Regions from separate parts of the Homo sapiens genome. Here region 1 is linked to region 2. The links come from fine-mapping of genetic effects on gene expression. A gene starts in region 2. The other region holds a variant in brackets. All regions are shown on one strand. Distances are from middle to middle. Region 1 has its middle 11 kb from the start of FBXO25. Region 2 holds the start of DLGAP2 (DLG associated protein 2).

What was found. PIP is the estimated chance that this variant, and not a neighbour inherited with it, causes the effect.
Region 1: its variant is the best candidate, but not a certain one, in a credible set for the expression of DLGAP2 in prefrontal cortex (BrainSeq, PIP 0.90).

What each region holds. Positions count from the first base shown.
Region 1 is chr8:393,551-397,935 of GRCh38, forward strand. No RefSeq gene overlaps it. Among named protein-coding and RNA genes, the nearest start is that of FBXO25, 11 kb to the right of the region's middle. The variant G/A (reference allele first, on the strand shown) is at 2,629.
Region 2 is chr8:735,213-739,588 of GRCh38, forward strand. It overlaps DLGAP2 (DLG associated protein 2), which reads left to right and starts at 2,416. Exons shown (of 15, transcript NM_001346810.2): 1 at 2,416-2,613. The coding sequence starts at 2,596. It overlaps LOC124902044 (a long non-coding RNA gene), which reads right to left and starts at 1,818. Exons shown (of 2, transcript XR_007061156.1): 1 at 1,645-1,818; 2 at 822-1,005. LOC401442 (a long non-coding RNA gene) reads left to right here and starts at 3,336. Exons shown (of 1, transcript NR_134292.1): 1 at 3,336-4,376.

The DNA.
Region 1 (4,385 bases), 340 kb before region 2:
TAGCAATGTGGGGGTGGCTGAGGGAGCTGTGAGCATTTGTCCCTGGACCTAGGACAGGGTCTGGTGCGCCCTTTGAGACTGGGCCACCCTTTGAGCTCCTGCACTCCAGTGACTCCAGCAGCATCAACTGTGCTCCACTCACACGAAGATGCTCTCGACTGTAGACACACCACTGCGTTCATGGAACCAAGAGAGGAAAAACACTTCCAATTAAACTATGACAAGCCATGTAACTAAGATACATTCTGATTCCTGAAATGTGAGGCTGTGAACACCATGTGTGCCCCAGCATCTCTAAGACACCAGTGTCCCAAGGGAAGACACTGAGGACCATGGGGGGGCAGTGTCCAGCGGGGCATGATGGCTGAGCGGGCTGCTGGGGGCCAGCTGCCAAGCCAGGTGGGCTAGAGCCCGGGTCCCATACCATCTCCCCACCCAGGAGCTGGCGGAATGCGTCTTCACGTTGTTTTTGCTGTGGCTCCTGACTCTGCCAGCATGAAACACATTTATCTCAAAATTTCTCACGAACACATACTTGATATTATTGTTCTCAGAATATTTACTGGGAAAGGGCATAAGGACAAAAAGGCACTTTGTTTAGTAACATTTTACTGAATTTGTATTTAATTCATCACAAAAGCATCTGAGCACCTTGGTGGACCCAAAACCACACCTGGAGACATGTCAGTCTCAGACCACAGTTGCTAGAAGGGCCCTTATGACAACTCAGCATGTTCCCAGGGGTCCCAAGACCACAGCCTGGGACTCTGCACTCCAAAATGAGGTTTACAGCCCTTAGTCAGGTATGCAAGTTCTTAGCTTCTCGAGCAGCCTCCAAGATGGGAGCTCATTTAGAGCGGCCCCATACCCCCTTGAGCACCCCAACTCTGAGCCTCCCCAGCAGCCAGGTGTTGTCCTGCTGTGCAAAAACCCCTGATTGTTTTTAAGCTGGTGTCGACATGCTTCCCTGTCATTGACCCTCATTGTGCCTGTAAATCTGTGCTACACAATTCAGTTGTATGTTGTGGGATTCACTAAGAACCCTGCTGCAAGGTGGGTTGTTGCCCCCGAGGCACCTTCTTCAGAAGCCTGGATTTCTATCTATTAGTTCGTCTTCAAGGGTGGAATGGCTGCATGCATTTCCCACCCGTGCACCCTGCCCACGGTAGATCAGAAGGAAGATTAGTAGGAAGGAGTGTGCAGCAAAAGAAATGTTTTTTCCTAATCTCTAAGCAGACTATACAGACTGTCCCAGCCTTATCTCAGAGCCAGTAATGAATTAATCAAAACGCACAGAGCTGCTTCTGCAGGCGAGATGAGCACTGCTAAGAAGCTGCTGATAACATCCTTCAGGTGATCCTCTTTTTTTAAAAAAACATATATTTTGTCTCTATTGGATTATTTTGCTTCTCTCAGGGACATTGCAGCGGTTTATGCCCAGATCAGCATGAGCATGCCCAGATGCTCCAGGGTCCAGCACAATGACCACACCCAGCCCCTCTGTTACCTGCGGTGAGCACTGGTGAAGGGGAATGAGGAAGGCCCTGCTGCAGGGTGGGCAGTGTGGAGGGAGGGACTCGAAGGGGCCATGGGTCTGCTTTCTCGGGGAGGGACCATGGGTGCAGGCGACAGACACACCTGAGCACTTGCGGAATCATCTTCCTGACTTCTCGGCTCCGGGCTCCAGGGTCCAGTCCAGCTCCCATCCACACGGAAGGAAAAGGATGAACAAACTGAAAATCAACAACTCTTCTTCATCCGTCAGAGAACTGAGTCACCAGGCAAAGCACGGCCCCCAAATCTGGAGACACAGACAAGCGGGTTCCAAGAACCTCAGCTGACAGGAGCAGAACCTCTGCGGGGCCAATGCCACGGACTTGAGCTGCCCCTCATGAATTTCTGGAGATGCCACCTGGACAAGTGAGAGAAAAACTCCAGGGGAACCCAGTCATGGGGGACCTGCGCTTGGTGAATTTTACCTCCGAGAGCTCGACCAGGTTCCCACATTAGAGAGGAAAAATCAGCCGGGCGCGGTGGCTCACGCCTGTAATCCCAGCACTTTGAGAGGCCGAGGTGGGCCAGTTGCCTGAGCTCAGGAGTTCGAGTCCACCCTGGGCAACATGGTGAAACCTCGTCTCTACTAAAATACAAAAAATTAGCCAGGCGTGGTGGTGCGCGCCTATAGTCCCAGCTACTCAGGAGGCTGAGGCAGGAGAATCGCTTGAACCCAAAGGCAGAGGTTTCAGTGAGCCAAGATCGCGCCACTGCACTCCAGCCTGGGTGACAGAGGGAGATCCTGTCTCAAAAAAAAAAAAAAAAAAAAAAGGGAGAGAGGAAATATCCCCTCTTACTTACAGCCTACCTGGAGGTTGGCAGACATCCGAGTATGTCACACTTTCCTCCTCCTGTGCTGTATTCATTCCACAAATTTTTATGGCATATTGACCACACCCAGACCCTCTGTTACATCCTCTGTGGGAGGTCAAATACATGAAAATGACTTGGTGCTGTCTTCAGAGGCTGCAGTTCAGCCCAGCCACGTGAGGCCACCATCAAGACCGCCTTTCACCCAGAGCCCCTCAGGACTAGTATGGAGATTTGGGGAGTCTGAGTCTGCCCAGATTCTCT[G/A]ATTTGAATAGAGCAATAACACTTTATTTGCTTTACATGTTAACTGAAAGCCCAGTCAGTCACTGGAACAAAGAGTTTGAGCGTTTCAAAGTCAGGTAGGAATGCACTGATCTGTAGCAAGGTTCCAAGCCTGTCTACCCAGGATCAGCTGGAAAGATGTTTGATAATGGAGGGTGCAGGTTTTACCACCATTAAAATGAACGACACCTGGTGGAGGTACATTCCAGGGCTTTAGCAAGCTCCGCAGGTGAGCCTGGGTGCACAGCCTGGCAGACTTGGGAGCCGTGTGTCTAGACCCAGGGTGAAGGCGGTGCTGTGCATTAGGGCAACAAGCTGCTTGTTTATGCCCAGAGCTCACCCCAGAAAATCTGTGTAGGCATGACGGGGCTTGAGCATCCATATTTGACATAAACAGTACAATACTGCAGGTGACTCTAGTGCAAGCAGCTGGGGACCACAGGTGGAGAAGCATGGTGCAGAAGACCCTGAAATACAGGAACACAGCGCCAGCACATGTGCCGTGCTGGAGTTCTGCAAATGATGGCTTCAGCTCCACAGATGGTGGTTTCCCTTATAACAATTTGAGGCTTAAAAATAGGGCTTCACTTAAAAAGAACAGTGGATATTTCTGCGTGGTGGAATGATGAGTGGTTTGTAAATGTGTCTTCCTTATGTTTGTCTGAACCTTCTGGGTTTTTTTCTATCTTTATCCATTTATTGATGCAATAAATCTTAAGCATATAGTATATGCCACCTACTACATTGTTTCAGCAAAATGATAATAATTAATAATGTAATAATATACTAATTAATATAGGAGTACAACTAAGAAATCTGCTTTCTAAGCAATAATTTTAGAGAGGCATTTTTATCCTCCATAGTTTGGTTCTTGGCCTCCTCATTCATAGAAATCACATTATATACACTTCCGAGGAGCTTGTCAAAGCCTATTTAATCAATACCAAGCTGACATATTTTATTTGCTCCCTTCAAGTTGACCCATCTATTTTATAAATGTGCGGGGTGAGGCTTCCTCTTCTTCAGGTTCCTTTCCTGTATCTTTTTATTTTCTGCAACCTCTTATATTGTTCATAACCACATTTCTCTTATGAGTCATCTTCCCTGCTTTGAATCTCTAGTTAATACAGGAAAAGCTTCACACAAAGTACTGACAATGGTAGCAAATCAGTATCTTAATGTTCTATAGCTATATTAAACAAGCAAGGAGACTGTCAAACTTTAGTAAGTAAAAGAGCAACAGAATCTGCACATCTCCATTTACCAACCTTCTTCGTGCGTTCTTTCAGATACACCGTGTAATGAATAGACTCTTCTGGCCTAGAACAATAACATCCACAGATAAGACTGCTTATAGGAGAAATGTGTTCTGTAATTTGTCCATTCATTCATTTATTCACCAAGTATTTGTTTAGTGTCTGCTATGTGCCTGGACCTTGGACGCAACGGTAGACAAAAGAGACAAAAATTTCTGCCCTGGTGAAGCTTATGTCCTGCGGGTAGAGACAGAGAGAATAAATAGGTAGAAGACACAGTATGTTAAAAGGTGGAGAAATAAGCCCGTGTGAGGGGTCCCTGAGTGTGCGGAGTGGCAGCTCTAACTGAAATAGTAAGGGTAGAGCTAATAAGAAGTGGCTTTTGAGCAAAGCCTTGACAAGGTGAGGAACCACTCACACTGTAAAAGACACCTGCAGGTCAAGGTGTCCTCAGGTTGAGAAGTGCCTCATCTCATGCCAACT
Region 2 (4,376 bases):
ACTTTGCGAGGCCGAGGCGGGTGGATCACGAGGTCAGGAGATCGAGACCATCCTGGCCAACATGGTGAAACCCCGCCTCTACTAAAAATACAAATACAAATAATAATAATAATAATGATAATAATAATAATAATAATAATAATAATAATAATAGCAGGGCATGGTGGTGTGCACCTGTAATCCAGCTACTCGGGAGGTTGAGGCAGGAGAATCGCTTGAACCAGGGAGTCAGAGGTTTCAGTGACCTGAGATAGTGCCACTGCACTCCAGCCTAGTGACAGAGTGAGACTCCGTCAAAAAAAAAAAAAAAAAGGCATCAAGTCCTTCTATCTCCCAAGGTCTTCAGGCCTGCTCTTATCTCCCTAAATCCTGTTCCCAGGGCCATGGCAGAGGCCACCTCTGATGCCACCCTCAATGTGCTCTCAGGTCCCCGTGCACTCCCCTGCTGGTTGGCCTCTGGACTTTCTTTGAAGCTTTGGGAGGTGCTCAACTTGGGGAGTGGGGTGTGTGGGTGAGGAGCAGCCCTCAGTCACTGGGACCTAGAAGCTGAAAAGCTGTCCAGCCTTCCTAAGCTGACGTGCACTCCAAGCTGCTCCTGTTAGAGCACCCCAGCAGGACGGGGCCCCGGTGGCCACAGGAGCAGCCCAGCGTCACCGCAGCCTCTGGGACGTCCTCTCCTGCCCTGCCTCTCTCTCCCTACTTCCTCTCTCTAGTTTCCTGGGATCGATCTCCCAAATGAACTACCTGCACCCAAATCCACACCTCAAAACCTGCTTGTGGGAGAACCCAGGGGGAGATTTAATAACGACGTCCTCAAAAAGTTCTTTTCTGATGTCACAAACTGTATTTGTTGCCCTTTTCACATTCACCAATAACACTCCATATGTTTCCTTCAGAGAATTATAACTTGTAATTGTCTGTTCCTTGGGTAACTTCTGGGCGGATCCCTCTCTAGACTGAAGGCTTCATGGGGCGGCAACCGTGGTTTTCTGTGCTGCTCACACGCTGAGAACACAGGAGAGGCCGTCAGTACATTTGTGTGATTTTCTTGTTGCGGTTGCATGAAATAATATATATATATATTTTTAAAAAACGTGAAGGGATGGGGACGAAATGCAGGGGAGGAAAGCAAAGGGAAAGTAAATTGTGAAATGAAAATAAATTGGCCTGGAATCTCTCCCTAGTTGAGGTTTGGGCGCTGAATGCACCTTTTTTTTTTTTTTTTTTGACAGTGGAGACCACTGATAGATTCGGGAAACATTTAGAAGAAATGGACAGCGGCCGGACTTCTTTCTCCCATTCACCTTTCTACCCCCTCGTCGTTTAGCACTCTGCCTTGAAAATAAACTGCAACTGATGAATATTTTGGTGATCAATTATACGGGGAATTCTTACAGAGCCTGTTTTTTGTTTAAAGATCTTGGAATTTCTGGAAAAGATTGGTTTGTCCATTCCAAATATTTTGGATGACCTGATTTCATTCTAACTCCCATCCGTCTTTCTATGCGGTTTGTTTTCGCATCTTTTACCTCATTTAAATGCCGTAGCCATGCAGGTGGAAAGCAGAAATCCATTTCTGCGTTTATGTTAAACTGGGGCTGAGAGACTTGCCCAGGGTCGGTGACCGCCCAGGGATCCCCATACCAGCGCGTCTAGCTCCCGCGTTCCGATCCCGGAAGGGAAAACCCATGATCCTGGCGAGGGTCCGTCCACACGTGGCCAGGGTGGCTGATCTTCCCGGCTGCTGTGGTTGTCAACACCACTTCTCCGGATCGATTTTCCCTTTTCCTCGGCTCTGTCGTCCATACGCCACTCACAGCAAACCCAGGCGGCGGGCCCCCTCCGAGGGCGCTCCTTGCGTCCGGACCCAGGTTCTCGGGGCGCCCCCCGGTGGGTCCCCGCGAAGCCGCCGCCGCACACCTTCCTCAGCGTAGCCCGCCAGTGGAAACCGGGGGAGGTTCTGCCTCCAGCACCCAAGCGGCGGCCGCACCTCGCAGTGAGACCCTCGCAAGCGCCCGCGCCTCCCTCGCCCCGCGTCCCCTCTGCCCCGCGAGCCCCCCTGGGCGCCGAGCCGACTCGAACCCGAGCGCGAGTCCCGCGCACAAACGCGCCGGCGCGTCTCTAACAGCGGTCCAGAAAGGCTGACCCTGCCCGGGGGCGACGGGTGTGACCGGGTCCCCCGCTAACTTTCGGGCGCGGTGAGCGTCGCCTGCGCGCGCCGCGGTGGAGGCCGCTGCTTTCCCGCCGGGAGCCCGGCACAGTCCCCGGGTGACCCGCGCGCCCCGCGCAACAGTTGGAGCCGGGCTGCCCGCGCGCTCCCCAAGCCGGGCCCTTCCCCAGATGCAGCCGCGCGCCGGCCGCCCCCCAGTGCGCCGGTGCCTCCCTGGGCGCCGAGTGCGCAGGCGCCGGCCGTGAAGACCGACCGTGCGCCGGGCTCGAGCGCGGTCTGAGCGCGCGGCGCCTGCGGCGGCGAACGGACGGACGGACCGCGGACGGACGTACTGACCCCAACCCGCGAGCCCCGGGAGCCGTCGGTCTGAGGAGGGGCCGCTTCGCCATGTCGCCCCGCACCTGCTGAGCCCGGAGCGTCCGAGGATGTCCGCGCTGAGGAAGGTGCGAGCCGCCGGGGGCTGCCGGGAGCCGGGCGCGGGGCTCCGAGAGCCGTCGAGGCGGGGAGGGCGCGGTGTGTCGGACCCGCGGGGACGCCCCGAGGGCGTCAGGGTTGGGGGCGGGGGCGAGCGGGGGTCGTGCCGCCCGCCGGGGCCGGAGCGCTGGGGACCCCAGGGACAGCCTGTGCTCGGGGGTCGCGCGTTGCGCTCCTCGCCGGGCTCCGCGCATCCCTGGCCGCGCTCGGGGGTGCCGGGACCCTGGGCTCCGGGGGTGCGGGAGCGCACGGGGCCGCGGAGGTGTGAAATTCTCCGCTCTGCCTGCCCGGGGTGGAGGGGGCAAAGCCTGGGGGGTGCCGGCGCGCCAGGGGCTACGCGCCTAGCTCCGGTGGGGCAGCTGCGAGCGAGTGGGGGCGGCGGGCAGCAGACTGCATCCCCCTCCCCCCAAGCCCGGGTGGAAACGCCGACGGGGACTGGGAATGAATGAAGGGTGCCGGGCTGGGCTGCGCGCACGGGGGCTCGCGGGGGCGGGGGCGACCAGGATGGGGCCCTTGTGCCGGGCAGCAGCGGCTGCCGAGACCAGGCGGAGTGGAGGGTGCGCGCAGCGAGGGGGTGGCCGCCGCCCGGCTCTCCAAGTGCGAGCGAGGAGCTCGGGGTCTTTTTTAGGGGTGGTTGCTAAGCGAGGCGCTACCCAGCGCAGGGTTTTGTAACTAAGCCTCCCCCGGCAGCGGCTGTTGCTGTCTCCGGCTCCTTCGCTAACGATTGCAGGAGAAATAATGAGGATGTAATTATTACAGCCCTGCGCGGAGGGCTGGGGGGCGGCGGACGCGGGCTCCTCTGCCTGCGCGCCCAGGTGGGGCTGGGCTGGGCTGGGCTGGGCTGGGCTGGACTGGACGCCTCTCCCCGCCCGGCCCTCCCTCAGCGCGCGGCGTGTGCGGTGCCCGAGGCTTCGGAGCAGGCTGGACCTGGGAACCCGGGGAGGGGCCTGGAGGAGAGATAGCTGGGCGAGGTGGGCGCCGGCGAGAAGGCGGAGCCCCCGGACAGCGTAGGTTCGCAGGTGGAGAGCGGACGCGGGGGCGAGGGTGCGCGGCGGGTCTGCGATGCGCGTCGGAAACTCGCGGCCCCCGGTCCCGGCCCTGCGCGCTTGGAGCCCGGGTCCTTCCAGCCCCTGCGCGACGCCGCCGCCGCCGCCGCCGGTGAATGGCGATCCCGGCCACGGCCTGGAATTGGAAATTCGTGACTTGTCGGCGGCCCCGGTCTTCTATCGATTAAAGATAAAGCGATCAGCAGTGAATTTATCCTTCGTGTGGATGAACTCGGCCAGCCCGGGCTGTGGGGGGTTTGGGAACTGTAAATATTCTCCAAAGCGCCGCCGCTTCTCCCGTCTTCCCGGACTCGAGGCTGGAGGCAGCTCCGGCGACGCGAAGGGGGGTACCCCCCGGAGAGGTCGGGCCTGGGGCGCGGCGGACAGAGACCCGGTCCCAGAGCCTGGCGGAGCCCGACAATCCGCCCTGTCAGGAGGAATCTCATCAACAGCCCGTGAATTAATTGTCCTTGCAGTTGGGAAATAACCCGGTACCTCGGCGTAGCCCGAGGGAGTCCAGGAGGCTCTCCAAGGAGCCTTCCCCCGGGTCGCGAAGCTGCGCTAAACCCCGGCCCCAGCGCACCTTGGAAGGCGCATTTTGGCCTGAGGTGAACGCACCTTACACCATTTTCATTTTACTTCCTTTTCTCTGAGAAAGGTAATAGATAACCAAGGCCAAAAATGGC